Regions from separate parts of the Homo sapiens genome. Here regions 1, 3, 4, 5, 6 and 7 are each reported to be linked to region 2. The links are microRNA targets in miRTarBase. Many come from high-throughput screens and were not tested one by one. Region 2 holds a microRNA gene; each other region holds the end of a gene's coding sequence.
The links. Region 2 holds the annotated microRNA hsa-miR-7977 (UUCCCAGCCAACGCACCA, at 2,348-2,365, shown strand). A microRNA usually pairs through its seed, bases 2 to 8, with sites in the 3' UTR of a target mRNA and lowers its output. Matches are read on the target gene's strand: a 7mer-m8 pairs with bases 2 to 8, a 7mer-A1 pairs with bases 2 to 7 and ends in A, and an 8mer does both.

Region 1 (4,386 bases), not on the chromosome of region 2:
AGACCGTAGTACACGGCGAGCAGCACGGCAGCTAGCGAGACGCAGAGGAAGTAGGCGCATACCGGAGCCAAGCGCAGCCAGCGCCCCCGCGGGCCCTCGCTCAGCCCCGCGCCTCCGGGGCTCTCGGCGCCGCCGCCCACGCAGCTGGTCCCCCGCATCCCCGCAGCCCACTCGGCTCCGCGCCGCAGACCGCACAGGCCCCGCCCCCACCAGGCCCCGCCCCCACCCCGCAGACCGCCCCGCTCTCTAAACCGCCCGCCTCCGGCCCCGCCCCCGCCAGCATGGTCACGCCCCCACGCGAGCTGCCGCCTCCGCATCCTAGGCCCACCCCCTCCAGCCTCCGCCCCACCACCGACAGGCGGAGGTGCTACCCCGCCCCCCTCGCTCCAGCCCCGCCCCCGCGCTTAGCCCCACCACCCCAATCACCGCCTCCTCCCGCCACAACACGGTTCTCTTCCCAGACTCGGACTTCATCCAGCCCAGGCATCTAGCCCGCCTCGGAGCCCGCCCCCTCGTCCCGCTCAAGCCCTGCCTGGAGCCCTAACCCGCCCTGTGCCGCAGCCAGTCTCACTTCTCTACCTGTCGGACTGCTCTACTCCAGTGCTCGAGCCCTGCCCGCTACGGCCTCTGGCTCCCACACTCTAGTTCCGGAATCCCCGCTCTCCTCCCGCGCGGGTTCCCGCGCGACACCCCGACCACGCCCCCGCTGACGGCCCCGCCCCATGCCCATGGCCAGAGCCCCACCCGCGCGCGCTGACCCCGCCCCCCGCTCTAACTCCGCCTGTCAGGATTCCGGCCCCGCCCAGGCAGCCTAGCTCCGCCCCCGCGGGACCCGCCTCCTCCAGCACACTCTCAGCCCGCTTTCAGGTATCCTCAGCACCTCAGGCCCCGAGGTTCCAGCTCCGCCCCTCACCGCAATCGCGCCCCTTCTCCCAGCTCCTCCCCAACGGTCAGCTTTTCCCTCTCCCTAGAGCCAAGGGGTCCAGACTAGGCTCTGGGGTAGAAAGAACACAGCCTGGAAATCCAGATAAACCCCTCCTCACGCCCCCTCCCCATCAAGGCGGGGAAGCTTCAGTCCCCTCCCAGCAGCGTCTTCAGGAATTCGGGGAGGCCTGCGGGAGGGGGGAGGGAAGACGGATCAGAAGGGTGGAGGAAGACCCCTTCCTTCCGCCTCTTCCGCCACAGAAAAGCCCGCCAAGCACAGCGACCCAGCCTGCCCCCTCCAGAAACACAGTTCAAGGGTGAGCGGAAGCACTGCGTTTAATACGACAGGGCTGGCGCCCGAGTAATTCAAGCCCTTCGGAAGTGTCACCGGCTGCCAGGCCTCGGATGCAATCCTGGAGGCGGGAGATTCGGCCTGAAGACTGGCTCGAGCCGCCCAGGGCCTCCATGGGAGACTAACGCGGAAGCGTCCCAGCCGTCCCAGTGCCGTGACGTCCCCCGTTGGTGGGGCCTGCACCCGACTACTGCCCTGGCCCCGCCCGGCTCGCAGACCCTGGCTCCTCCCCCCTTAGATTTAACCCTCTCCTGGCTGGAGTGTGGCAGAAGCAGAGGACAGAGGAGCGAGGCGGTGGGAGGTTAGTGCAGAGCGCGGAGGCCGCGGTCCGGCGGGCGCGGTCAGCGAGCGGCCCCCGGCAGCGGAGGGGCCGCCACCACCTTGCAGAAACGCACCCTCTGGAAGTCGGTGATCTCCGCCGTCTCCTGGCCTTCGGGGCCTGCCTCTGAGGAGAGAAGGGGCTGAGTCAGCGGAGGGGAGCAGTCTTCCCACCTCCCCCCCGGCCCAGCACCCCTCCCCCGTCTAGCCACGTCTCTCATCCAGTTCGAGCCCTTGCCACAGCAGGCTCGGCGCTAAGCGGTTTACGGGGCCCAGACTAATCCTCTCAGCGGACCCACGCAGCAGCAAACACTCCCAACATAACCGTTTACAATCGAGGAAACGCGGGTGTGGCGAGATCTGGCTCCCGACCAACAAGTGGCCCAAGACAGAGGGTCTGGGCCCCCGCGCCACCCAAGGCTGCAAACTGTCCTCTCCCACCCCCGCCCCATCTCACGGCCTTCATCAACCTCCACCAAGCCAGTCCTAGAGGACCCGCCCTCCCCTTTCCTTCGCCAACGCCTGCTATTCTAACCAGTCCTTCCTTGGCTCTGCCCCCAAAATCCTAATCCCACTCTGGGGGAAGGGGAGGCCATCTGAGATTCGAAATCTTACTCCTACGGAGTGTAGGTGGAGAGGGGCTTGGCCTCTTGCTCGCACTTCGTCGGTCCCAAAATGCTGATCGGGTACGCATGTCTATTCTAATTTGCCCCACTAGGTTGCACCTCGGAACTCTAATCCCAGCCACAGTTAAATCCAGTTTTCTGCCCTTGCCCATCTCTTTGGCCTTTTCGAGCCAGTTCAAATTTCGTAGTCTGCCTATAGCTCCTGCCCTAGTACACCAACGCCAACCACCTTTTTTGAGACGGAGTCTTGCTCTGTCGCCCAGGTGGGAGTACAGTGGAGCGATCTCGGCTCACTGCAGCCTCCGCCTCCCAGGTTCAAGCGATCCTCCCGCCTCCCAATTAGCTGGGATTACAGGCATGAGCCAAGGCATCCGATCCACACCCCATTACTCTTAAACCAGTGCTTTCCAAAACCCCTGAGCTCGACTCCAAAATTCTAATCCTTTCCTTAACCCCACCTCCTCAACCTCCATACCAAATTCCTATTGGCTTGGCCCATAAAGTTGCCCCTTTGCCCCACCCCTGCCACCCGGCTCCAGCCCCCCATCCCTATCCGAGCTCACCCTTTTCACCTCACCTCTATGGTCCAACTGCTACCTACACACATTCACCCCACTCCCCCCAAGCCCTCTGCCCCTCAGCCCCAGAGAAAGAGGAAGCAGCGGCCTCCATCCCATGCCCCATGCACTCCCCCACCTGGAGTTGCCTCAGACCCTTCCTCTTCAGCTTCCTGGGTTCCTCGGAGGCTGGGCCCACTCTCCGGGAAGGCAGGGGCTGACTGGCCACCTCCTAGGGAAGGGGAGCCCCAGTCAAGCCCCCTTTCCCGCCTGACATCTCCCCACCCCAAGAGAGAAGGCCCAGGGGGAGTTGAAGGGGGTTCAAGGACACACCTGGGGGAATGTCATTGGAGGATGTGAATTCTTTATTGGGGAGGGGGCTCGAAGGGCTGGGGCAGGCTCTGGGAGTGGACATTCCAGAGACGGGCATGACAGTACAGAAGAGCATGGGCTGCGCTACCCCCTCAGCTGACAGGGCTGTGGGGCACACTGGGTCCCAGGGCCCAGCCCCAAGGGTCCCCCACCAGCCACACCCCTCTAGCGCGCGCGCGCGCGCGCGCGCGCGCGCACACACACACACACACACACACACACACACACACACACACACAGGCAGCCAGCTTCATACACTCTCAAAAGGCCAGGCCTCACCCGGGGAGAGGGCGCCAGCCAGGTGAGTGGTCCGGGGAGAATTCAGCTCCACCTCTTCACCCCAATCGGACACAGGCTGGTGGCCGCTGGGTGGTGAGAAAGGGCTGGAAGGCGTGCCAGGGGCCTGGGGCTCCAGCAGGGGCTCCTCCGGACTGAAGGGGACTCCGTGGGCCTGCTCACTGCAGGGGATCCCGGTGGGGGCAGCCTCTGGGGCTTGGTGGTCTTGGGCTGGTTCCTCCTCATCACCTTCTTCCACCTCGATCTCCTCCTCTTCCTCATCCTCACTTATGTCCTCCCATTCTTCATCCTCTTCCCCCTCATTCTCTTCCCCCTCGTCTTCAGGAGGCCGGTGGGCAGGAGCTGGGATCTCGGGTGGCTTTGGGGACACAGGCAAGTCAGGGCAAGGCACAGGTCCTGAGCCCCCACCCCAGGCCCGTGCCCTGAACCACAGCCCAGCCTCACCTGCATGGGTGTCTCCTTGGGGGAAGTCTCGGGGGAAGTAGGCTGTGGAGTCTCAGGGGCTGGGGATGCTGCCCCTTCTTTTGTCTCCCAGCGGTCATCATGGTCACTAGAGGGAACAGAGGGAGGGGTGATGCCTGGGTGGAGAGTAGACAGGAGGAAGGGGCTTCCTGCCTCCACCCTCCCTAGGGAGGAGCTGCCCAGAGCATCTGGCATGGTGGAGGGCTGAGGGAATGGCGGATGTGTGTCCCCATGTGTCAAGGACAGAACGAAAGTGGGGCAGGTAGCAGGAGAGGAGATGGGTGACGGCAGAAAGGGGACAGATGAGGGTAAAACCAAGAGCCAGATCCCAAGCCCCTCAAACCACGGACCTGCGAGATAGACAGGGCCAAGACAAAGACAGGGACAGACAGATGTACCCACACCTTCACAGCAAGCCAAAGAAGAGAACGCCCTGCGGAGAGCCCTGGGGGTATGCAAGCCCGCAGAAGGGGTGCCC
Region 2 (4,386 bases):
TTTAGCCCTGGTTTATCGTAGGCCCTCTAATATGCACATTTAAAAGTGCTTTCTTTTCCATTTATCTGCTGAGTTATTGAGGTTCCAATCAGGGTTGTCTACTTGAACTGCTTCTCTTCCTAGTGGGAATGGAGTTTCCATTACTTCTTCACCTTCCCTATCTCCTTTTTTTCTCTTTGGTCTGCCATAGGAGATGTTGTTCATCTTCATATTTTTCTGCTGCCTGCAGAACTGCTTGCTTTTCAGCTTCAGTGAGGCCTGACTTAGGAGCAACATAACATCCCTCCATGTGAGGTCAAACACCTGAGTTAAATTTTGGAAAATTTCTATATATTTATTGGGGTCATCAGAAAATCTGCTTAAGTCTCCCTTTAATTGCTTAAGGTCCTGTAATGAGAAGGGAACGTGAACCCTCATGGCACGATTTTCATCAGGCACTTCCTGCAGAGATAAGAATGAAGTGGGGAAAGTGGGTAATACTGGAGATGGTGGACCTGGAGGACCTGATGGTATGATTGGAGGGGCTTCTGGATGAGGGGAACTGAGTTGAGACATTCAATAGCTGTCTCAGATTGCTCCTCTGGAATCTGCTTTAGCTCTGGGGGACTATTCCTTGTGGGCTTGCCTGTCATGCTGCTAAAAGAACTGGGTCAATTGTACAAAGCTTGTAAAGGTCTGGGTCGTCTCGCAGGGCAAAGAAAGCCTGTACATTGGGTATCTCAGACCATTTGTCCTTCCATCTGCAGAAAATATCTAATTGTTGGACAGTATTAAAATGAAGGCTCCCCCCAGCAGGCCAGGTTTGTCTGTCTTAAAGATGGTAAGAAGGCCATGCCCTTATGCCATAGAATATGAGGTGCTCTTTCTACAAAGTCTCAGGGTTGAAGCAGTCCCAGTGCTTTAGAATATACTCCAGGGGAGTACATGCTGAACATGATCTGTTACCCATCTAGAAAGAGAAGTGAGAAAAAGGTGTCTCTTTTGTCTCCTTCCTCTCTCTGTATAACCCAGAGTGGAGAAGAAGACAGTGGGAGCGTCCCCCCAACTGTTTTCCTTCCTTGGTTCCTGGGTCCCAGCACCCTGTTAAATGTGCTGCCCATGGTTGTATGTGTGACCCTCCAAGCCATGGCACCAAAGAAACCAAGCAACTGGGGCTAGTCATGCTCATTCAAGTAGCTCTAGTCCTCTGCCTGTGATTTCCCTTTGACTTCCTAGACTTGTGTGACCTGTGTGCCTCCCTTAAAAAAAATTGACCTTGGGAAAGATTATATAAAAGGCAAGTGTCCTTTAATGGAGGGAATGTGCTAGATTGCCTGCTACTATGGCCCGTGTTAAAGCCTTAACCCTTAGAAAAATGGTTCTGGTTAACTTTCAGACTTAAAATCCCCTTACTAATTAAGGACTGTCTTATTGGAGACAGAATAGTTTCCTTAAAGGGATGTGGGGGCCTAATCGTGACTTTCCTGTTGATGGGACAGGATCAGGACTCAAATTTGGCTGCAGAGGACAATTTACTCCTAATTGTTGAAGGCAGAATTTTCCTGTTCACAGAAGCAGCATAAAGCCTGGTTTCCAGTAGGAAGGGGCAAAAAGGAAAAATTAGGAAGCTGCGGTGGACTGTAGCGGACAAGCAATGCGTCTTATGAAGAGGGTGTCTATTTCCACTAGGTGGCGCTGTTGGCTTAGGAATACTATGTGCCACCAGCAGCATAGTAGGGACTCATCTCACAACCGGGGTTTCAGAGACCTCTGTTCCTAGAAGATTGCAACAGCATTTTCCTGAGCTATAGCCCCGGTTATTACAGCATTTCCTGATCTTGCCTAACAGGATTACTTCCCTAGGCTGTAAAAATTCCCACACATTCGACACACAAAGAGAATAAGAGGCATAGCGACCGTGGATAGAAACAGAAAAAAAGTTTTGCGACAGGATAACTGGGGATCTTTTACCAACACCTGGGCAGGCTGCTGGAGGCTGAGTCCGGTCCAGAAGCTTTTGAATAACACTAGGAAATGCCCTGGCCAGAAATTCTCAGTTGCTTCAGAACTTTTCCCCGCCTTATGCAATGGCTAATTTTCCCCATGAACAGAAAAGCTGGTTTGAAGCACGGCCAACATTCCCAATGACCCAGGGTATTGGAGGGAGGGGGGTCTTCATGTTCTCCCCAGCAAGGCTGACATGCGAGTCTTTAAGAATGGCAGCCACACTAAGCATATCTAGATGGTTGACAGATGCTGTTATTGATTTGATTTGATTTTAAAATGGAAGCCAAGAGCCTCGGAATGAAAGGACAGGTTTTGAGTTTGCTCTTCTGCTCACCAACCCCAATGGATATTGTACCTTGGTTTCCCAGCCAACGCACCAAAAATGATATGGGTCTGTTGTCTGGAGAAACACCCAAGGTCCTTGTTCTCGCACGGAGAAAATTAGCGACACGGATACACGTGGAGTGGTTTAAGGAGTGGAATGTTTAATAGGCAAGAAAGAAGAAAACAGCTCCCTCATACAGAGGGAGGAGGGCTCCAAATGGAAAACCCCACATGTAGCAGAAAGCAGTCGGTTATATTGGGAGGCTGGACGACGTGGTGTTTGGTTTGCATAGGAGCCAGGGGATTGGTTTGACCAGGTGTGTCATTCACATAGCCTGCAAAAAAGCCAGCTCTCCCACCCTAGCCTTTAAATATGCACATATGGCTACCTGGCTGGTCACCATGATGTTCTGCATACGTGGCAACAAAGAAAAAGTCACGGGAACCACCATATTGGTTGGACCTGGCTTCTAGCCACCAGCATTTGCATATCAATGCTTGCAGGTCTGGTTTTTCAGGCCACTTTCTGTTAGAAAAGAAATGTTTTGGGGCTTGCTTTTTTATTAAAAGAAAAAGCCTTACCAAGGACTCTTTTCCCCTCTCTTGCTGCCTAAAATAATTTCTTAATAACTCCTGTAATACTAGTGATTCTTCGATCAGGAATACAACTTTTCTATAATTTGTGATTTCAAACGTGTCAAGATGGCAGTGACATCATTTTTTCCCATGTGCTTTCTGCTTCTTCGCTTAGAAAATCAGTGGCAGATTTCTCCCAGTAAAGAAGACATATTATTTTAATGTTGCCAAATATTTTATAAATTATTCCCTGACTTATGCTCAAACAGTGACTATAGTTGAAACATCATCCTGCAATGAAGCTCAAAGTATACCAGTCTTACCTATGCGTTCAGAGCTTCAAACAGTTTTTAAAATCTCCGTCTTTAAACGTGAGAAGATAAGCAAGAATTAACAGTTGAAGAAGGCTTCTTTTGTGAAAGAAAAGTACTGGGAAAACAAAACAAAACAAAACAAAAACTGGAGGAGAGAGATAATATAAAAAAGAAAATGTTTAAAGCTTATCGTTGTCTTAAAAGAAGTTTCGTTAATTAAACAAAAAGAGCTTTCTGATTTTAAAATTACTGTAGGCCAGGCATAGCAGTTCGCACCTGTAATCCCAGCAATTTGGGAGGCCTAGGCAGGTGAATTACTTAAGCTCAGGAGTTCAAGACCAACCTGGGCAATATGGCAAAACCCCATCTCTACAAAAAATACAAAAATTAGCCAAGTATGGTGGCACATGTCTGTGGTCTCAGCCACTCAGGAGGCTGAGGTGGGAGGATGGCTTGAGCCTGGCAGACAGAGGTTGCAGTGAGCCTAGATCACATCACTGCACTCCAGCCCAGGGACAGAGCGAAACCCTGTCTCAATAAATAAATAAACAAACAAACAAATAAAATTACTATGGAGCTATAGAAATCAAAATAGTGTGGTACTGACATAAAGATAGGCCTATAAATAAGGTAATGGAACTGAGAGTCCAGAAGTAAAGCCTTCTAATTGTGTCAACTTTTTCTTCAAAAAATTTGCCAGGCCAATTCAATGAGAAAGGACAGTCTTTTCCACAACTAATTTTAGGACTATTGAATATCCAACATGCAGAAAGGATAAATTTAGGCCTTTATCTCAAACTATGCACACAAATTGACTCAATATGGATCAAAGATCTAAATGTAAGAGCTAAAACTGTAAAACTTTTAGAAGAAAATGCAGGAGAAAATCTTTTTGACCTTGGCTAGTCAATAATTTCTTAAATATAACATTGAGACCACAATCCATTAAAATAAATAAACTATAGTCAAATTGGTCATCAAAATTAGAATCTTGGGTACTTCTAAAGAAATAGCTGACAGAATGAAAAGATAATCCACAGACTGGAAGAAAATATTTGCAATATGTTTCTGATAAGGCATTTACATCCAGAATATGTAAAGAACCAAATAGATGACAACAAGCTCAATAAAAACTTAAACAAAAAAATTAAATAGACAATTTACAAAAAAGAATAAAAAGACTCAT
Region 3 (4,326 bases), not on the chromosome of region 2:
TTCCTTCTTACTTTCTATGTCAAATTTAGCTAATCACTGGATTCATCAGAAGCCTAGGGGGTTCAGTGTCGAGATAAACATACCTAGGACACCCCATGTTTCTGGGTTATCCTTAGATACGATGAGGTGGAGAGATTCCAGTCACAGAGAGAGGCTGTAAAGAGCAAGCAGGCAGTTGGAGAGAGCTACCAATCCCAGACACTCCAGCAGTTATGGTGACTGCCTGGATGGTCACTCACAGAGGAGGAAAAAGTAGTGAGAGAACTGGAGACAAGGGGGAAATGCAGGTCTTTCTGTACAACAGCAGCTTCCAATCAGAGAAACAGATGATGGGTATCCAGCTATGCAATCCACAAAGGACAAAGTCCCCTGCTTTGGCACAGTCTGATTGTTGGGATGAAACATGCCTAGAGGTAGAGTGAGCCCTTTCTAGGTTAACATAACCAGATATGGGACACCTGCCATTCACTGCAAAGTGCTTCATATAGCTGGCTGCATTCATCTGCTTAATAAAACCAGATAATGAAACAAACCCCCTTTTCCAGTTCCCCAGAGCCCTGCTGTAAAGAAGGTGCCTTTAATTAGAGTCAGACTGCACAGCACTGGGGCTCAGCTGTACTATAGTTTGATGCTGCAAGGCAGAAAAGTTACCGTGTATTTTCTAGGCAAGTAAAATGCAGATGATGTTTAATATCAGATATCTCTCCAAGGAAAGAACATTCTGTAGCTCAGACAAATAATGCAAGTTTGGGTTAATTTTTGGTTTGTCTTTTAAACATAGTACATTCAGGCTTTTGTTTGTGATCAGGGCAATAATGACAGATATAATTACTTAGAGATGAAGAAACCAAAACCAAGACACAAGGAGGCTGAGTAACTTGCCCAAGGCTCACACAGTTACTAACAGCAGGGCCAAGATTCAAACTCCGCTAGTCTGGCTTTTAATGTTGTTGTATTGATTTATTACTCTTTTTAGTCTGTCTTTAAGAGCTCACTTTCCTAGATGTTGTGGAACACTTGAGAGGGATGTGGTACTCTGAAAGGAGGGGCTGCAAATCACTCTATGTCCAGCAGCTGTGGGATGGAATGGTCAGTCTGTGAGGTCAGTCTCTGTACATAGTCTTCAGGCTCAAGTCAAGATGTCTCTTCTTGGCCAGGTGCAATGGCTCATGCCTGTAATCTCAGCACTTTGGGAGGCCAAGGTGGTAGGATTGCTTTAGCCCAGAATTTCAAGACCAGCCTAGGCAACATAGTCTCTATTAAAAAATAATAAAATAATTTTTAAAAAGGTATTTCTTTTTAAAATATCTTCTCTCTAAAGATATATGTACAAGGGTGTTAACTGCAGCATTGTTTTAAGAGTAAAAAGGTTTGAACCAACCTAGATTTCTATCAAAAGTAAGCCAGAAAAGTAAATGATGGTGCAAATACACAATGAAAAAACAGGCAGCTGTAATAAAGAAAGGAAACTATGTACTGACATGGAACTGTTGCCAACATATATCTGAAAAAAGCAAGGTTCAGAATAGCGTACAGTTTACCATTTGTGCAAAGCAAGGAAAAAGACCACATGTGTTTTTGCTTGTATAGACAGAGATCTCTGGAAGAATATACAAGCAACTGTAATACTTGTTGCCTCTGAGTGGGAAGTAGTCGCTGTGGGGAAAGGGTGAGAGGCATTTCATTCTACGCCATTTTGTACCTTTAATTTCAAACTATGTGAACATATTGCCTACTCAAAAAGTGTATGTCTGTACTCTCTTAAAAATGAATTACAATATGTAAACTAAACACAGAACATATAAAAATTGACATATACCCATGCAATCTATAAACAAAACACATGTATGGGGAAACAAGAAGTTATTAAATCAAGGTGGTAACAATCTTTTCCTTTTGTTCTCTATTTTTCCAGAATTCTTATGATGTGGTTATAGTAAGTACTTTTAAAGCATTTTTTCCACATTTAACTTACTTCCTCCATGACTCTACCAGTATTTTGATCAGTAATCATGGGCAGAAGAATGGAAATGAAGACTAAGGACTCCAGAATCCCAAAATTCACAGTATATTCAACAAAGAAAAAATCCCTACCATCCTTAAAAAGTTGGCAATCAATAGTTTCCAACCCTTTATGAAAATACATGGGGTATAGGCTGGGCGTGGTGGCTCACGCCTGTAATCCCAGCATTTTAGAGGCCTAGGCAGGTGGATCACTTAAGGTCAGGAATTTGAGACCAGCCTGGCCAACATGGTGAAACCCTGTCTCTACAGAAAAACAAAAATTAGCTGGGTGTGATGGCATATGCCTGTAGTCCCAGCTACTTGGGAGGTTGAGGTGGGAGGATGGCTTGAGTCTGGGAGGTGGAGGTTGCAGTGAGCTGAGATTGCACTACTGTACTCCAGCTTGGGCAACAGAGTCAGATCTTGTTTCAAAAATTAAAATTAAAATTAAAAATAAAGGAGAGGTGGAGAAAAGAGAGAAAACTTCTAATGTAAAAGAAAAATAAAGAAAAAAGCACATCAAGTTGTCATAAAATCATTGCCTGTGTGTTCATGACGTCAGATAAAATAGATTTGGAAACATTCAAATGCCAGCTGAAGGAAAGGAGTTTCTCCCACCCCTGAAACAAGGTAAACAGTGACCCACCTCTGTAATAAAAAGGAAACACGACAGTCAGGAGGTTAACAGAGCTCATCTGTTGCCACGATCTGCAGCTTGGCCTCTTAGGCTGACATTCACTTGAAGTCTATCATCTGATACAGTCACTTTCTTGGTTGTAATCTATGAGCTGCTGGTGTTTACTTGTGAGACTGTCTGGGAGCAGGAAGGGAAGGAAGGTAAATACACCAAAGCCCAGCTGAGCAACTGACAGGTTTTACATTTTATTTCCAGGAAATGAGATAGTATTTTCACAAAGAAGAGGTAAGCCATCCTCTCAAAATAGACACTGCCTTCAGAGGCAGCCATGGGGTACACCCAACCTATCCAAAACAACTGTCAACGGAGGTGTTTCCGAGGTATCAAAACAGTAACAACAACAACAAATTAAAAAAAAACAGAAGAGAACTCAAATAACTCTTTCGACATGTAGTGAGGCAGAGTCTACGAAGTACCCTGAAGCAGTTGGGTGCCGTGAATCCTGGTGGTGCTTCAGCCAATGATGGCAGCAGGGCTGGCCACCGTGGAAGGCAAGTGACTGAGGGCTTCCTAACTCAAGTCTCTGTCCCACAAGACTTCTCAGTTGACCTTCAGAGCAGCGGAGTCACGGCTAGAGAGAATCCTCCAGACCATCTCAGGCTCGCACTACCTGGCAGTCTTTCAAATGCCCTTAGAGCACGGTCTTCAGAACAATCTCTTTGCTTTGGAGAAAAAGAAGAGAAATAAATAAATGAGGAGCCTGTATTTCCCTTCCGTGGACTCCCTGCTTCCAGCCTCGCCACCCTGTCTCTTCCTCACACAGCAGCCATAGCGAACTGAGAAAACAGAAGTCAGATCATGTCACTCTCTGCTCAAAGCCCACTCCTCATTCCTCTCACAGTGAGTTAAAGTCAAAGTCCTTTCAAAGGCCTACAAGGCCCTACAAAATCTGCGTCTTGCTCAAGCTTCCTCTCCTACCCACTCCCCAGCGCTCACTCCACTCCCCAGCACTAGCCTCCTTGCTGCCCCTCCCACATACCAGCATGCTCCCCCTTACCATTCCCTCTTTCCCTACATGGCAGCATGGCCACCTCCTTCAGAGCTTCCCTCAAATAGTTCCTGCTCAGAGGTGCCTTCCTTGATTACCCTATCAAGAATTGCCAAGGCTTTCACCATCACCCCTTCTCCCCTTCTTGCTTGATTTTTCTCCATAGCATTAATTACATCTAACTTAGATTTTCACTTTTTACATTCTCAGCATCTAGAACAGTGCCTAGCACAAATCTGGCCCTCAATATATCTGTTAAAGATGTTAAAGAAAGGAATGAATTATATACAGGAATAGGCAGGGAGAGGCGGGAATTCTTCCTGTGTTCAGAGAGGGAGGGGACAAGAAAGGCTGTTTACTTACTAGCCTCCAGGCTTTTCCAATAGTCCGCTTCCTTGTGGGAATCCTGGCCTATGCCAAAGGCACAATAAAGTCACCAACCAAATTGTCCCCTTTCTCTGAGACTGAATTCTGGAATGCTTTGTTAGGGGGATTGAAAGGACTACAGAAGTTATTCGTCTCCCACTTCTGGGTAGCCTTTGAGGTGGTGGGCCTTGGGGCTGGGCATGCCCTCAGCCTTGGAGAGAGAGAACCAAGTAGGGTTCCCTCCCTCTTAGCTAACAGCCTCAACTATTAG
Region 4 (4,368 bases), not on the chromosome of region 2:
TATTTTCTTCTAATTTGCTATCACCTTTCTTCTTCATATCTTTCACACTTCTTCTTATTTGATAGACAGTATTCAAATTTTGAAGAGTGGTATTTACCCAAGTAATTTAAGTGGTGGGGCACAAAAGAAAACAAGAAGGAGAAGAAACAGATGGGTATTTTTTTAAAGCCCTTAAAAATTATAACAAATTCTATGTAACACAGGCAATGGAGTATTTCGATGGTAGCAACTGCCAATTTTCCAAAAAGTTTATAATAAAGTGATAATATCATAGTTCATTGTTATTCTACCATCCATAAACTTCAACTGTTCCTTGATGATTCAAATGTCCTGTGGTAAGACTTAACATATATTAAGAGTTGAGATACAATTTGTTAAACAGTCTTGGTGTGTTTTTTGTTTGTTTGTTTGTTTTTGTTTTTGAGAGAGGGAGGAGGTTTAAGTGCAAAAAGGACACATTTGTGACCCTAAAAATGAGATAATACTGTTGAATTTGGTACATGAATTGGTTAAGAATTATTGTGTTTCTATGGATAAACCTTAACATTTTAAATTATTTTCTTTTGAAACTTTAAAAAGTATCCTAACTTTCAATTCTGAAGATGAGGACACACACGGGGGATGGGATAAGCTAAAAATGCCACGGGCTTTCAGAAAGCTGCCTTTGGGATCTTACTTGCATTTCAAAGACACAGGCAGGTTTGGGCGATGAATGGAAAAATACAGAACAGCATGTATTGTTCCTCAAGAAGAAAAATGACTCCCCCACGCTGCTATTACTCTTTTCTGCTTTGATTCCAATGTAACGAGAGCATGCCTATTGGAGCACTTTCAGTACAATTAAGCTGGAATGTCCTGACATTGAATGAGAGATTACATTATTTTCTGAGAAATCCTTAGAATTGGCATCTCCCCAACAGAAAAGAGGCAGAAGGGGGCAGGCGGAGGAGGAAGCAGACCGTTCTGCTTTAGCTTAATTGGTAGCAAACTGAAGCTGGGGTTTTTTTTTTTTAGGTTTGTAAGGGAGGCTTCCTTCATGATATGACCGTAGGATGCTGTCACCCTGACCCGGTTCCTGATGCGTGATGTTTCTAAGTGCTCAGTAAGTACCAATCTACTCCCACACTGCAGTATGTGGGCGTGTGATGCTGAACAGAGAGAGCACGATGTGATCATAGTTAATTCCCTCTGGTATCAAAAAAATAAAAACCTATCAAAAAATAAAAACGTATGTTGCTCTCGTCTGCGTCATCATTGTTGTTCAGACTTTTACATAACATGCCGAAGGAGAAGACTCAGAAAGCCAGGCAGAATCATGAAGAAATAACTGAATAGTTCTGATTCCAAGAACTGTGTGACCTTATGACATTTAAAGAGTGAGGAAGAGAAAGCAACAGGTTCCAAGTATTATAGCAAGCATACCAGCTTTACTTCAGGAAGGCTCGTGGAGAAGCTGTGATCACATTGTGGTTATTTAGATACTTCCAAATGGAAATGGCATTGATAACTATTCAGCTGTGATATGAAGGTACAAAAAAATTTTCCAAAAGGGAAAGGCAGAGAATGGTCAATGCATACTGATTTTCATGAACCACTTCTGGTAAAGGTCTTCTGGCATGTGAGATGCATTTTGTTTTCTTTATTTTATTCCAATCAATGAATGATTCAGTTATTCCAATCAAATGATCGGGTTAGGTTATAATGCCTAAGAAAGTTGAATACTATTGTTAATGCATAAATTAATAAAATCTCTTAGAAATCACTTGGCCAAACTGCCATTAAACCATCTCAAGATGATATTTGAGATTCACAATAAGTGAGGCACTTGAAACATTGGATTGGAAAATACTTTCACATTTTCTCTTTACAATTAAGTGATGCTGGTATTTTCTAACTCCCATGATGAGACTGAAAACTAAAAGAAAAATTAATAATATTATAAAGTCTTTATCTACTGAAACTACTTTATCTACTGAAAACTAAAGAAAAATTAATAATATTATAAAGTCTTTCTAATAAAATGCTTGATGGATTGATATACCATCAACATTGTATATTATGAGATATATATATTTTAAAACTAAAAAATCACCTTCAATGAACAAAGCAAAACTTGCAGCTGTGATGTGGTCGTGACCCTCTGGTTAAGAATGTCCACCTTACAGACGAGGAAGCCAACCAAATGCACCAGCTGGTTGGGCCAGAGAGAACATATGAGTATCTCAGATTCAGTTATTCCAATCAATATCACCAACGTGCATTACAGGATGGAAGTCATACTACTGTCCTTTAACAGATAACACCTGGTCTGATCACCGTAAAACTTTCTTTCAAAAAAATAAAGATAATTTTAGGTTGGTGTTGGAGAAAAACTTACTGAATATTTACATCCCATACCGGCCATCCTCCCTTCATATATTCTGATCTATTTTCCTGGAATAGATAGATTACCATGGCATGGCAGATTTTTTAATGTTTTTGTATATTAATAAATGGATAGTAAACTGAAATTTACTGATGGGGCTAATTTCTAATGCAAATCCCAATAGAAAAAGATGACTGTTTCCTAAATGCTTAGTAACCACTGATCAATGAGACAAGGTTCTACTTTCAAAGCATTCTTTGCACTTGGTGGTTTTATGTTTGACATCCCAATGCATATACAATTTTAACTCACTTTATTGTGTGTAAATATATATATATATATCCTCAAGTGAATGATACTGTTCTCAGGTTTTTCTATATCCAAGGTATACTTTCTTATGTTTTGACATTCGTTTGATTACAACATGCAATTTACAACACCTGGGACTACAACAGGACATTAAACACAGTTCTATCCAGAGGCTACTACTTCTTGGGTAAGGACTAGTTTGGGCTCCTGCACTGAACAATGGTGTGATTATTCGATTTCACAGACAACTTCACAGCAACACGCAAAGCCTAAGCGTAGTTTTGGTTAGCCTGTGTTCTAAGAAATCCACTTCCAGATAAAAACGTGGTTCCCCCATATTGTCTACACACTAAAGCACGCCTTTACCATCTGGCAGAGCCAGATGCTGACTGGGAAGTGAATCCTTCTTTCTCGTGAAACCCAAACCACATGTAAACCATCTGCAGGGTCCTGTGCTGTCAGTGAACTGCATTCCCCAAGCACCTGCTTCTAAGAGATTTTCTTAGGTTGTTTTCCAACTATGGGCTCCATTCAGACTTCAGGCTAACCTCACACAAGGTCAGATCCCACCAGACACAGAATTGTCATTTTTGAGGAGGACTCAATGTTTGGCAAGCGTCCCATTTTGGAACCTCATCCACAAGCACTTGATGAAGCACAATGAATGGACGGCTATTCGTCCATGCCTGACATTTATAAAAGCACAAGGGCTGCCAGAAACCTTGACAGAGAGAAAAATCAATTATTTCTCTCCCTGGCATTAGCCAGCTCTTGCCGACTATTCATCTTACGCGTGATGATGACTAATATCCGTCGGATGGCAAGGAGCCGCTCTTTGAGCGAGGTCATGCCGAGGATGGCCAGCTGAGCCTTGCGCTCCAGGGGCAGCACGGCCAGGATCCACCAGGACCAGGCAGGGCCGCTGGGATTACTCTGCAAAAGAGATGAGGGGAAAGCAAGGTTAACACTGGAAATGCAAGCCTGTTCCCCAACACAGTCTTTTGCTCCACCAACAGACACGTGAGCAAGAATTAAATGCCACCTTGTATTTTAGGGCTAATTCACAATTCATTCAGCTCTCAAAATACATAGTTTACTTTTATGGTACACATTTAAAGGTGGGGGAACTCACAAAAGGAAGAGCCTGCAAAGAGAAGCATCTTCCATGGGGAGATTCTATGAATTAGTTGCTTCTGTTCTCTCAAGCTTTCAGTTAAGAGTATATACCAGTCAGAGGAGAATACTATCACTTTAACCTTCACTTTCCAATGTTCTGTGCTATTATTTTTTATGTCTTAAGCATGCCATATAAAGCATAATATTATAAAGGCTAAAAGTATGTGTACAAGTTTGAGTGACATACTCAATGTGGCAAATGAGTGTATGTATGAAACATATATATGTATGCATGTCATATGCAAGAGTTATCATAAATTATATATATAAGAATTATTATGCCACCAAATAACCTTTATTTCACATAATCAAACAAAGCACTTCTAGACTAAGTGCTAGGCAAAAGCCGATCATAAACTCGTTCTCAATATTCTTAGTACTGGAACCAAGATATCCAGGCCTTTTTGTTTCCAGGGTCTAGGATTCTTCACTCTATTCCTTCTCCAAAAATGTGCAGGATGCCGATAAGAGCTGGGAGGGTGAACTCTGGAGTCACCTTAGTTTAGGGTGAGGTAGAT
Region 5 (4,318 bases), not on the chromosome of region 2:
CCTACATATGTAATGAATGTGGGAAAGCCTTTCGATTTCAAACAGAACTTACTCAGCATCACAGAATTCATACTGGTGAAAAACCCTATAAATGTACAGAATGTGGGAAGGCCTTTATTCGTAGCACTCATCTCACGCAACATCACAGAATTCATACTGGTGAGAAACCCTACGAATGTACGGAATGTGGGAAGACGTTTAGTCGGCACTATCATCTTACTCAACATCACAGAGGCCATACTGGTGAGAAGCCCTACATATGTAATGAATGTGGGAATGCTTTTATTTGCAGTTATCGACTTACATTACATCAAAGAATTCACACTGGTGAGCTTCCATATGAATGTAAGGAATGTGGAAAGACCTTTAGTCGTCGGTATCATCTTACTCAACATTTTAGACTTCATACTGGTGAGAAACCTTATAGCTGTAAAGAATGTGGGAATGCCTTTCGTCTTCAAGCAGAACTTACTCGACATCACATAGTTCACACGGGTGAGAAACCCTATAAATGTAAAGAATGTGGGAAAGCCTTCAGTGTTAATTCAGAACTTACTCGACATCACAGAATTCATACTGGTGAAAAACCCTATCAATGTAAAGAATGTGGAAAAGCCTTTATTCGTAGTGATCAACTTACTTTACATCAGAGAAATCATATTAGTGAGGAAGTCCTATGCATAATGTAAAGAGAATACGATGGCCTTTAGAAAATGCCCTTTAGCAGAGAATTTGTAATTTAAGAAATTTTCTGTTTGTTACGGAACATGTGGGAATCCCTTTTACTTCATGCTCACAATTTATCAGAAATTATTTCGTATGTTAAAGAGTCGAAAGACTATAGCATCACTCAGTCCCTGTTAGACTTTAGAAGATTGATACTGATGCACTGCATCCCAAACCATCAAGGGCCTTTTCCCCTACAAACTGTTGTTGAACAGTGCTTCTCTAAAATGCAATAATAATGGGCCAGGTGAAGTGGCTCACACCTGTAATCCCAGCACTGTGGAAAGACAGGAGTTCGAAACCAGCCTGGGCAACATAGTGAGACCCTGCCTCATGGCTTTAGTGAGCCATGATTGTGCCACTGCACTCCAGCTTGGTGACAGAGTGAGATCCTGTCTCTAAATAAATAAATAAAATGCGGGCCAGGCACAGTGGCTCACACCTGTAATCCCAGCACTATGGGAGGCCCAGGTGAGCAGATCACCTGAGGTCAGGAGTTCAAGACCAGCCTGGCCAACATGGTGAAACCCCTTCTCTACTAAAATACACAAATTAGCTAGGCATTGTGGGGGGTGCCTGTAATCCCAGCTACTCAGGAGGCTGAGGCAGGAAAATTGCATGAACCTAAGTGGCAGAGGTTGCAGTGAGCTGAGATCGCACCACTGCACTCTAGCTTGGGCAACAGAGCAAGACTCTGTCTCTTAAATAAATAAATAAATAGATTACCAGAAAAATGAAAAGAAAAAAACAGACATACAAAATAAAAGCCCCAGTTTTTTATTATGGTATTTAACTGAGTTAACTCTGTCAGATTGCTGCAAACATTTCTAAATACTTGCTCTTGGTATCTATAACTTTTGCAGAGACCAGAAGCAAACAATTTGTGGGCCAGTGTCAACACATGGACCACACTTTATATAGCACTGTAACGGAAAATGATTCTGTTAATGTAATGAACATGGGAAAGACCAGCCTTGGCCTATCTTTATGATATATATAAATAATATAATTCTCATAATTCCACCTCTGCCTATGTGGTGTTTGGCAAAACATGCCCCTGTGCCTTGGTTTTTAAAATGGTAATAACAGTACCACCTAATAGTATTTTTGTGAGGATGAAATGCTAATAAAAGATAAAACCTTTAAAAGAGTATTTGGCACACAGCATTTTATCAATAAATATTGCTTTATTTTTTTCATTGGGGATACATTTAGTACATTCATGTGAGAGGAAGGCCCTGTGGGTGTAAGAAATTTGTAAAAACTGTCCATTACCTTTCACTCCTTATTTAGATTGGAATAATTAACTGGAGATAATATCCAGTAAAATAGATTAAACTTCCATTTATAAAGTCAGAACCTATCTCTGAAAATTAATGTGAGAAAGAAATCTCTAGATTTGATGGGTGTGAAGATTATGAGAGTAAAGTTTTGAAGACTCAGGGATAGCTGTAATGCTTTTTTCTTTTTATAACCCAAAAAGCAGGTATGTCAGTCGCTTTTTCTGCCCACAATGATAAATTAAAAACAGCCACTATCCATTTGGAAAACTTAAAAGAATAATGAACAGTTATGTTCTATCTAGATTCAGCAATTGTTAATATGTTGTCACATTTGGTTTGCTTATACATAATATTTACATATTTTGCTGTAGTATTTGAGTATAAATTGCAGATACTATAACACATCACATCTAAGAATAAAGGCTGCCTCCTACTTAATTGCTATATAACAATTGTCCAACCTGTCTGTGCCCCAGGGCAGCTTTGAATGCAGTCCAACAGAAATTTGTAAGCTGTCTTAAAACATGAGATTTTTTTTGTGATTTTTTTTAAGCTCATCCGCCATTGTTAGCACATTTTATGTGTAGCCCAAGATAATTCTTCTTCCAGTGTAACCCAGGGAAGCCAAAAGATTTGACCCCCAGTAACTTCACACCTAAGGAGATTAGCAATAATTCCATAATCTGTAATATTCAGTCTGTGTTCATATTCTCAGTTGTGTTCATTCTTTTCATTTGTGTAAACAATGCTTTTCATAGGTTATTTTTAAATTCAGGAACCAAATTCATGAATTACATTTGTGCATTGTTCGTCTCTTTTAAAGTAAGAATGGCCCTTCCCCCCACAACTTTATTGCAACATTGACTTTTTTTTTTTTTTTTTTTTTTTTTTTTTGAGATGGAGTCTCTGTCGCCCAGGCTGGAGTGCAGTGGTGCGATCTTGGCTCACTGCAAGCTCCGCCTCCCGGGTTCAGGCAATTCTGCCTCAGCCTCCCCAGTAGCTGGGACTACAGGCGCCTTCAACCATGCCCGGCTAATTTTTTGTATTTTTAGTAGAGACGGGGTTTCACCATGTTAGCCAGGACGGTCTCGATCTCCTGACCTGGTGATCTGCCCGCCTCAGCCTCCCAAAGTGCTGGGATTACAGGCATGAGCCACCGCACCCGGCCTTCCCAAAGTATTTTTAAATGTGCTTTTTTATCCCCAGTATTTCCCATTAACTGGAATTTGGGATTAGAGACCCAATTAGGGACAGATTAAATATTTTGGCAAGAATACTTAATGGGAGAAATTTTGTATTTCAATTTGTAACCCATTAGGTGGCATACAATGTCATTATACCACTATGGTATCCTTAGTTCATTCACTTGGTGTAGCAGAACATACATTCCAAAGATGGCCACACCAATATATCCCATTCTGCATGTTCATCTTACAATGTGATACCAACACTCCCCAAGAGGTAGAGCTCATGGTCCTTCCTTTTGAATCTGGCCAGGTGGGCCTGTGTTTATGGCAGGAATAACACTGTGATTTCCACGACTAAGTCATAAAAGGCAATACAGCTTCTGCCTGACCCACTTGGGATGAAGCCCAGCCACCATGCTATGAAGATGCCAAGTAATCACATAGAAAAGCTAAGTAAAGCTGTCCTGATTACAGCTGTAATTGAGGTAACAGCCGGGATCCAGCACCAAGTGTATGAGGGTATGAGCCTTCAGATGATTCTAACCCTTAGCCTTCAGGCTATCCTAGCTGGTGCTAAGTGGAGCAGAGAAAAGCTTTCCCCCATGAGCCTGCCCAAATTGCAGATTTACGTTTAAAATATGGCCTGTTTTAAGCCACTAAGTTTTGGAGTAGTTTGCCACACAGCGATAGGTAACTGAAATACTTGCTTCATATGGTAATCACCAGGTTTCTCTGTTGTAGAGCTAAATATTTCTTTTAATTTAGTAAACGATCTGTAGAGTAGTACTTTGGCATTTCGGAAATTTAAAATCTCCAATAATATAATGACACTAGATCAAAAAGAAAATGAAACCATAAAGGACAATTTAGAAATGAATGGTAAGATCAGAATTTGTGAATGTGGCCAAACCTGTGCTCAGTGAAAAATCAGTAACCTGTTAATATATTCAGGAAACAAATATTGAGGGCCAGCACTTTGTTTCTCCTGCTCACCACTCTACTCCCAGTGACTTAATACTGTCTCTTTAACATAGTAATCACTTATAAAACTGTTAAAAGAATGAAGAAGCATTAAACTCAAGAAACTAAGGGAAAAATAAGTCAATATAAGAAAGAAGGGAG
Region 6 (4,386 bases), not on the chromosome of region 2:
TCTAATAACCCACTTGCTGTTTTTAGTGCCAACTGTGATGACACATGTCCATTTACACAACTAATTGAACTAAAAAAACTACTAGGTTACATGGTCAAGATGTCACCTCTAAACAACCATCCTTGTCCCTCTAGTTTTAATCCATATACCTTTTTTTTTTTTTTTTGAGACAGAGTCTCACTCTGTTGTCCAGGCTGGAGTGCAGTGGCGCGATCTCAGTTCACTGCAACCTCTGCCTCCCGGGTTCAAGTGATTCTCATGCCTCAGCCTCTTGAGTAGCTGGGATTACAGACGCGCCCGCCACCACACCTGGCTAATTTTTTTTTGTTTTGGTTTGGTTTTTTTAGTAGAGACAGGGTTTCACCATGTTGGCCAGGCTGGTTTCAAACTCCTGACTTCAAGTGATCCACCCGCCTCGGCCTCCCAAAGTGCTGGCATTACAGGCATGAGTCATGGTGCCCAGCCAGTCCATATACATTTCAAAACCCAGAAATTTCCAAATAAAAAACGTTTTAAACTATTCCAAACACTAAGAAACTTCAATTCCCAGGCCAGGCGCAGTGGTTCTCGCTTGTAATCCCAGCACTTTGGGAGGCCAAGGTGGGTGGATCACATGAGGCCAGGAGTTCGAGACCAGCCTGGCCAACATGGTGAAACCTGTCTCTACTAAAAATACAAAAAATTAGCCAGATGTGGTGGCATGCATCTGTAATCCCAGCTACTCGGGAAGCTGAGGCATGAGAATCGCTTGAACCAGCCCGGGGGGCGGGCAGAGGCTGCAGTAAGCTGAGACTGACATCACTGCACTCCAGCCTGGGCGACAGAGACTCTGTTCTGAAAAAAACAAAACAAAAATTAGCCAGGGGTGGTGGCACATGCCTGTGGTCCCAGCTACTTGCAAGGCTGAGGTGGGAAGATTGCTTGGGCCTGGGAAAGCAAGGCTGCAGTGAGCCCTGATCATGCCACTGCACTCCGACAGGGGCAACATAGTGAGACCTTGTCTCAAAAAAAAGAAACTTTCAGGTCGGCTGCAGTGGCTCACACTTTTTTTTTTTTTTGAGACAGAGACTTGCTCTGTCGCCCAGGCTGGAGTGCAGTGGCACGATCTTGGCTCACTGCAAGCTCCGCCTCCCAGGTTCATGCCATTCTCCTGCCTCAGCCTCCCGAGTAGCTGGGACTACAGGTGCCTGCCACCATGCCTGGCTAATTTTTTGTATTTTTAGTAGAGACGGGGTTTCACCGTGTTAGCCAGGATGGTCTCGATCTCCTGACCTCATGATCTGCCCGCCTCGGCTTCCCAAAGTGCTGGAATTACAGGCGTGAGCCACCACGCCCGGCCTCACACTTTTAATCTCAGCAAATTGGGAGGCTGAGACAGGCAGATCACTTGAGGTCAGGAGTTTGAGACCTGCCTGGCCAACATGGTGAAACCGCCATCTCTACTAAAAATACAAAAATTAGCCAGGCATGGTGGCAATGCCTGTAATCCCAGCTACTCACTACTCAGGAGGCTGAGGCGTGAGCACTGCTTGAACCTGAGAGGCAGAGGTTGTACATCATGCCACTGCACTCCAGCCTGGGCAACAGAGTGAAACTGTCAAACAAAACACAACAAAACAGGCCGGGCGCAGTGGCTTACACCTGTAATCCCAGCACTTTGGGAGGCCGAGGCAGGTGGATCACCTGAGCTTTGGAGTTCCAGACCAGCCTGACCAACATGGAGAAACCCCGTCTCTACTAAAAATACAAAATTAGCTGGGCGTGGTAGTGCATGCCTATAAACTCAGCTACTCGGGAGGCTGAGGCAGGAGAATTGCTTGAACCCCAGAGGCAGAGGCTACAGTGAGCCGAGATTGTGCCATTGCACTCCAGCCTGGGCAACAAGAACGAAACTCTGTCTCAGAAAAAAAAAAAACAACACAAACAAACAAAAAAAACTTTCATTTCTACTTGATATTATTCAACAAATCAAGCAAATGATCAGGGAGATGCCTATCAGTTAAAGACAAAAAATGGCACCAATAGATACAGATATCTTATAACTGTCTTCAAAATATAAATTTGATAATGATCTACAATTACTAAAATTTTGCATGTGTCAGCTGGCTAAATGATTTTTTTTTTTTAAGAAAGAAAAGTAGGCCAGGCACAATGGCTCATACCTGTAATCCTAGCATTTTGGGAGGCCAAGGCAGGAGGACTGCTTGAGCCCAGTTTGAGACCAGCCTGGGTAACATGGTAAGATCCTGTCTCTACAAAAAATCAAAAAATTAGCCAGGCATTAATGGTCCCAGTTACTTGGGAGGCTGAGACAGGAGGATTGCTTGAGCCCAGGAGGTCAATCAAGGCTCCAGTGAGCCATGATTGTGCTACCACTACACTCCAGCCTGGACAACAGTGGTAAACACTGTTTGGAAAAAAAAAAAAGCACCAAAAGAGTAAACATGTGCAATGTGCAATTGAAGACCACTAGTATCTTCTCAGCGATTAAGGAAGTGACAACTTTAAGGATGATTTACAACCCTTTAGATACTAGATTCATTATGGAATCAGGAAAAATGTGTGCTTATAATCTTTCACCCAAATCAGAAGAATAGACTTAAATTATTCTTCATTACCCTGGTTCAAAATGAAATGACAGAAATCAAGACTTAAAGAGTAATTTTTTAAAAAGTGTATGTGTTTTTAATGTCACAAGGATTAACCAAATTAGACTATACAAAAATCTGTAAGGAAATGTAACACCAAGTGACATTAACACTTTAGTCTTATATTCTTTTAAGAAGACAACCCAACAAAATATGGCAGTTACTGAGTTAGTTAAAAGGATATTTATAAGGCCAGGTGCAGTGGCTCACGCCTGTAATCCCAGCACTTTGGGAGGCCGAGGTGGGCAGATCACCTGAGGTCAGAAGTTCGAGACCAGCCTGACCAACATGGAGAAACCCTGTCTTTACTAAAGAATATAAAAATTAGCTGGGCGTGGTGGTGCATGCCTGTAATCCCAGCTACTTGGGAGGCTGAGGCAGGAGAATCCCTTGAACCAGGAAGGTGGAGGTTGCGGTGAGCCGAGATGGCGCCATTGCACTCTAGCCTGGGCAACAAGAGCGAAACTCTGTCTCAAAAAAATAAAAACAATGTTTATAATAACTCATCTAGACCATATTTGGGGGGAAAAAGGACATTTATGCTATTGGGTTGCATGCCTCAATTCTTCACATCCCATTTTGTTTTTGCTTGCTTAAAACATACTTCTAAAAAGTGAAACTCAAATGTAAAAAGTTCCAATTCTGAGTTTGGTATACAGCAATAAAAATTTTATAAATACCTTCCAATTTCACATGTATGAATCTTTTCTTTGATTAAATACTTGTGCTGGAGTAAAAATTAAGATACTAACTCAACAAGAAAAGTTACAATGTGCAGAGTTAACATTAGACAATTCAGTTTCTTTCATTTTATTTTTCAGATGACTTCATTTCTCAGGACAGAATGACACAAACACAAGAAGCAGTCTCTAGGGCTGGCTGAGACCACATTTATCTGTTCTCCTAAAAGCACTAGCTCAGCTCCCAAAAGAAGAATTACAAATCTGAGAAGTTAGAGGAAAGGTACAGAATAGGAATTCTGATTAACAAGAAAAATCAATTAATGACATTGGTACTCTATTCTTCATATCAGTAATAATACAAACTCAGCCCTTTTAAATCAGAGAATCTGCCATTCTATATCTAATAAAGTAGCTTTACAACCCCTAAAGTAAAAGAATTACATGAAGGTGTAAACCAATTTGCCTCCTTTAGAGACACTGCAATATAGAAGAGGATTTTTTTTTTTTTGTAAGCTTCTCCTTCTCAGTTCTACAGGCTTCATGGTACTTCAGAGCCCCAATAATCAAGCAGTTCATGACAAAAGATAAAAGTGAAAAAGTAGACACAGAGATCTGTGAAGACTTCGCCCATTTTGCTATAGGTATCCATTGATCGATTTATCACTTCGGCAGGAATTCCCGACAATAGAAGTGCAGCTGTTAGTACTGTTGTCTTTATCTTCTTTTCACTCTGTGTAGAGAAAGACTCAAATTAATCTTCAAAGTTTCAGCAGGCTACATTAAGCTCTATACAAACATGATCAGTACTGCTGTTTTTAACCGAAATGATTTAAAAACTGTTAATGATGTTTCAAAACAATCAGTAAGATACCAACATTTACTGAGCATATAATATGTAACTCATCAATCTGCTAGGCAATAGCAGACATCAGTCTTGCTTTTTTTTTTTTTGAGATGGAGTCTCGCTCTGTTGCCCAGGTTGGAGTGCAATGGCACGATCTCGGCTCACTGCAACCTCTGCCTCCCGGGTTCAAGCGATTCTCCTGCCTCAGCCT
Region 7 (4,386 bases), not on the chromosome of region 2:
ATCATTCAAACTGTTTCAGGCACGGTTTCAATTAAAAGCATAGATTTGATTTCTGACTTCCTGTTTCCTTCTATGATACAATCTCAAGTTTTGTTTCAGGAAGCACAATTATTGTAGCGTTAAGGTGGATACCTGCCAAAGCTCATCTCCTAGTGCTGTCCTCATTCTCAGAAAGTTCCTGAGTCAACAGAAAGGGGACGCCCAGGGTATGGAATAAGGAGATGAGAGCATGCTCTGCCAACTGGCTGGGACCTGAATGTGCTAGGCAAGTTCCACTACATCAGCTCAAGAACATAAACAAAAATGTAATTTAAAAAACAGATGGTTTAAAAAAATATCTGATAAAAATTACCTATCCCTCTCCCTTGCTGTGAAATAATTTAAATAATTTATTCTAGATGTAAAAATAATAATACAAAAAAGTTTGTTCAAAGACACCTGTGTCCTGTTTGTTAAGTGTGCAGTCTGGGTCCCTTGGGGTGGAGGGAGCTGGCCAAGGAATGGCATTGTGCAGAGGCATACCGGGAAGCTCTCTGGATGCAACCCCACCTCTACCGCTTGGCAGTCAATGACCTTGGCATGATGTTTCTTCACTTCTCTGAGGCTAGGTCTTTGATTCTGAACATGGGGACTGTAATGCCTGCCTGACCTGTGTTAGAACAGCATGTGTCACTGAGTGGAGGTGGGAGGAATTTGTAAACTGTGAAGTGCTAGCCACACAGGTGGGAAAGGTAAGCCTATCCTGTAGAGCTCTGCTGCCCTGACAATGCCTGGGATTTGGCCTTCTTTTCTGGAGCACACTAAGGCAATCTTGGCTAGTGCATCAGACGGGAGTGAGCCCCAGTGACTGAGTAAATGGAGAATAAGACAAGGAACACGAGCATCCGGCCTGTGCAGACATACAAGCAGAATAAACCACAGCTGGGTAAGGGGCAAACAGGGGCACTGAACCCCCATCGTGCTGCAGCTGCGGTTCCCAGAGATGTTGAGGGAGGGCTTGGGGCAACACTTCTGGACTTTTAAGGAGCCACCAGGCAGGACTTAAGAGATCTGGGTTGAGTCCCAGCTCCTGTCTGGAGCTTGCTGTCCTCTTCATCTTTATTGCAAATAGGTACACATGCAGTCTTCCATCTTCACTGTACTGCAGATCACCTGTGGAGCTTATATGACCATACAGGCCCTACTCTGGAGATTCAGCTTCAGTTGGTCTGGAATGTGGCATGGGCATCTGTATTTCCTGCACGCTCCCAAGGGAATTCTAATGTACACAGCTTGGGTTGAAACCTACCAGACTAGGTGGCCTCCTGCAGTCCCCACCTCAGCTCCAGAATCTAATCGCCCTGTGCAATGGAGATCATCTGCCCCTCCTTGGTAAGGAGGGACCAATTTCACTTCTAATCATTCCCAGTCTCTTGGTGGACTATTGTATTGACCACTGAACTTTAGAGTAGGGCTCGGAACACAGATTCACTAAGGAGGGACAAAGAAAAGCTTTCAGGCTAAAAGGGAACTTTGGGACCATCTGGTACTACTTCTTTACCTCGTATAGTCATTTCAGAAGACCTCCTGGTTAGGTGGCCAGAGGCTCTGCTGGCATGTCTCCAGTGATGGGGGCCCCCTACCTCCTGGGGGACTCTTCTGTTAACTAGGGCTGAAATCTGCCCACATCATCCTGCAGGAGGCAGGCTGTGTACCTGAGGGCCTTGGTGGTGGCAGTCAGCAGTCATGGGCACAGTTCTGAAGTCTGCGTCCCTCCATAAGGGACAGCATCTATCCATATCAGGCTGATTCTGGTTGGAAAGGTTGGTTTTGACCACCTGCCTGTGTTGTAGAATTGGGTTGAATGCCTCTGACCCCTTGCCAGTGTCCGTTAGTTTCTGTAGCAAACCCAGATCACCCCACAGGTAGTTTTCTCTTAGGTCAAGGTTTCAGGTGGCAGATCCTGCAGAGAGCAGCTTGTTCCAGGGTACCCCTGGTTCAGATGAAGAAACTGAGACCAGAGAGGGCAGGACTTGCAAGAGGTCACTGAGTAAGCTGGGGCACAGCTGAGGCCAGAAGCAACAGATTTCTACTCTTTGGGCTGAGAACTGCATCAGACCCAAAAGAGCAAAAAGACAGACCCAGAAAAGCAGGATCTCAGCCCAGCCCTGCCATGAAACAAATATCACTTGCCTCTCTCTAGGCCTTAGTTTCCCCAGCTGTAAAATGAGGAACTTGGGTCAAATCACTAGCTTTCAAACTTCTAAAAAAATTTTTTTTTCCTAGCAGAATTGTTTTTCATACTAGCCCAACATATAAAATAGAAGGGAGCTGTCTGGTTGGAATACAGTGTGGGGAAGGGAGACACAGCCTTCCTGCTTAGTCTTCCCCTATTCTCTCTCTCTTTTTTTTTTTTTTTTTGGAGATGGAGTCTCGCTCTGTCACCCAGGCTGCAGTGCAGTCCGCAATCGTGGCTCATAGCAACCTCCACCTCCCAGGTTCAAGCAATTCTCCTATCTCAGCCTCCCGAATAGCAGGGACTACAGACGCTCACCACCACGGCTGGCCAACTTTTTTTTTTTGAGACGGAGTCTCACTCTGTCACCCAGGCTGGAGTGAAGTGGCATGATCTTGGTTCACTGCAACCTCCGCCTCCCAGGCTCAAGCGATTCTCCTGCCTCAGCCTCCCAAATAGCTGGGATTACAGGCATGCACCACCATGCCTGGTTAATTTTTTATTTTTAGTGGAGACGGGGTTTCACCATGTTGGCCAGGCTGGTCTTGAACTCCTGACCTCAGAAGATCCGCCCAGCTTGGCCTCCCAAAGTTCTGGGATTATAGGCGTGAACCACCACGCCCTGCCTAATTTTTGTATTTTTAGTAGAGACGGGGTTTCACCATGTTGGCCAGGCTGGTTTCTTTCTTTTTTTTTTTTTTTTGAGACAGACTTTTGCTCTTATTGCCCAGGTTAGAGTGCAGTGGCACAATCTCAGCTCACTGCAACCCCCGCCTTCCGGTTTCAAGCAATTCTCCTGCCTCAGCCTCCCAAGTCGCTGGAATTACAGGCGCCTGCCACCACGCCCAGCTAATTTTTTTGTATTTTTAGTAGAGATGGGGTTTCACCATGTTGGTCAGGCTGGTCTCGAACTGCTGACCTCGTGATCCACCAGCCTCGGCCTCCCAACATGCTGGAATTACAGGCGTGAGCCACTGCGCCTGGTGAGACTGGTTTCAAACTCCCGACCTCAAGCAATCCGCCCACCTCAGCCTCCCAGAGTGCTGGGATTACAGGCATGAGCCACTGCGTCTGGCCCAGTCTTCCCCTATTCTCTGGACCACAGTTTGAAAATCACAGACAGGTCAACCTAGATCCTTCCAGCTCTAGTTTTCTACTGTGTTCTTTCCTCTTGAGAAGTTACAGCTCATCATGGGCCCTTAATAACAGAATTCAACAGAAGGCATCATCTGAAAACAAAGTCAATTCAGAAACTGTTGTTGCAAGAAGGCAAACAGAAAAACGGCACCATGTCCCACTGGAATCTCTTTCAGCGATGGAGAGTTTTGTTTTCTGGTAAAAAATATAGAAATAGTGGTTGTCCTTGAGGGGACTTGTGGTTTGGTTCTAAACCTCCCCATGGAGCCGAGTGGTGTCCCTGAGGGTGAGGAGGGCAGAGGTCTCTGCTCAGAGCTGCTCTGAGCCCATCCGCAAGTTTTTGATCTCCAGTTCCAACTGTTTGGCCTGGACCTCTCGCTGGGTCAACAGCTCCCGGAGCCTTCGGATCTCCTCCTGTTGCCGGTAGAACATCTGCAGCAACTGGGGAAGAAAGATCGGAAGGCAGGATCACCATGGTGTCAGGACACCAGCTGAAAGCTAAACCACTATCCCTCTTTGACTCAGAAAGGTGGAGGCGGTCACATTAACATGGCTGAGGCCTGATGGGGCTGTCACTGCATAGATCTTTTACAAACACCTTGTTTACTTCACCCAATAAATGAAATTCAAGAAGACTGGAATGTTTCAGATGTATTTTGCTTCCATAGATCCTCCATGAAATAGAGGAAAGGATGCCTGGCTCTGAAGTCTGGGGATTGGTGTTTTCGCCACCACTGAACTGTGTGACCTTGGGCAAGTTACTTACCCACTCTGAGCTTCCATTCCTTCCTCTGGAAAATGGGGTCAGAAAACTGCCCTCTGTGCAGAATGGGTGTTAGATATTGAGTGATGCCCTAAGGGCCTCGTTATCCCACTGGAACGTTGTGACACCCCTATAAGGGTGGCAGTGCTAGTGTCCCCACCGTACCACCGTGGAAACGGAAGCTTAGAGACATTCAGTCTCTGGGTCTAAGACCCTAAATTAGTACTCAGCAGAGCCAGGATCAGAATCCATCTGTGAGATGCCAGCCTCT

Region 1: the mRNA of CCDC9 is a reported target of hsa-miR-7977. The part of its 3' UTR that is shown has no 7-base or 8-base seed match.
Region 3: miRTarBase lists RNF8 as a target of hsa-miR-7977. Seed matches in the 3' UTR shown: 7mer-m8 at 2,316-2,322 and 7mer-m8 at 2,183-2,189.
Region 4: the mRNA of LONRF2 is a reported target of hsa-miR-7977. The part of its 3' UTR that is shown has no 7-base or 8-base seed match.
Region 5: miRTarBase lists ZNF546 as a target of hsa-miR-7977. Seed matches in the 3' UTR shown: 7mer-m8 at 3,009-3,015 and 7mer-m8 at 3,143-3,149.
Region 6: the mRNA of CAMLG is a reported target of hsa-miR-7977. Seed matches in the 3' UTR shown: 7mer-m8 at 3,003-3,009 and 7mer-m8 at 2,867-2,873.
Region 7: miRTarBase lists CORO2A as a target of hsa-miR-7977. Seed matches in the 3' UTR shown: 7mer-A1 at 1,402-1,408, 7mer-m8 at 1,061-1,067 and 7mer-A1 at 974-980.

Annotation. Positions count from the first base shown.
Region 1 is chr19:47,270,692-47,275,077 of GRCh38, reverse strand. It overlaps CCDC9 (coiled-coil domain containing 9), which reads right to left. Exons shown (of 12, transcript NM_015603.3): 11 at 3,891-3,996; 12 at 3,125-3,804. The coding sequence ends at 3,400. It overlaps INAFM1 (InaF motif containing 1), which reads right to left and starts at 193. Exons shown (of 1, transcript NM_178511.6): 1 at 1-193. The coding sequence starts at 158. RefSeq lists silencers at 1-271, 632-891, 1,502-1,811.
Region 2 is chr3:176,512,756-176,517,141 of GRCh38, forward strand. MIR7977 (microRNA 7977) reads left to right here and starts at 2,348; the gene lies at 2,348-2,396.
Region 3 is chr6:37,389,779-37,394,104 of GRCh38, reverse strand. RNF8 (ring finger protein 8) reads right to left here. Exons shown (of 8, transcript NM_003958.4): 8 at 1-3,363. The coding sequence ends at 3,347. Among named protein-coding and RNA genes, the nearest start is that of RNF8, 38 kb to the right of the region's middle.
Region 4 is chr2:100,280,886-100,285,253 of GRCh38, forward strand. It overlaps LONRF2 (LON peptidase N-terminal domain and ring finger 2), which reads right to left. Exons shown (of 12, transcript NM_198461.4): 12 at 1-3,607. The coding sequence ends at 3,413. Among named protein-coding and RNA genes, the nearest start is that of LONRF2, 39 kb to the right of the region's middle.
Region 5 is chr19:40,015,093-40,019,410 of GRCh38, forward strand. ZNF546 (zinc finger protein 546) reads left to right here. Exons shown (of 7, transcript NM_178544.5): 7 at 1-4,318. The coding sequence ends at 689. Among named protein-coding and RNA genes, the nearest start is that of ZNF546, 20 kb to the left of the region's middle. RefSeq lists an enhancer at 1-695.
Region 6 is chr5:134,750,434-134,754,819 of GRCh38, reverse strand. It overlaps CAMLG (calcium modulating ligand), which reads right to left. Exons shown (of 4, transcript NM_001745.4): 4 at 2,663-4,061. The coding sequence ends at 3,870. Among named protein-coding and RNA genes, the nearest start is that of DDX46, 6.2 kb to the left of the region's middle.
Region 7 is chr9:98,121,113-98,125,498 of GRCh38, forward strand. It overlaps CORO2A (coronin 2A), which reads right to left. Exons shown (of 12, transcript NM_052820.4): 12 at 1-3,793. The coding sequence ends at 3,662. Among named protein-coding and RNA genes, the nearest start is that of TRIM14, 4.1 kb to the left of the region's middle.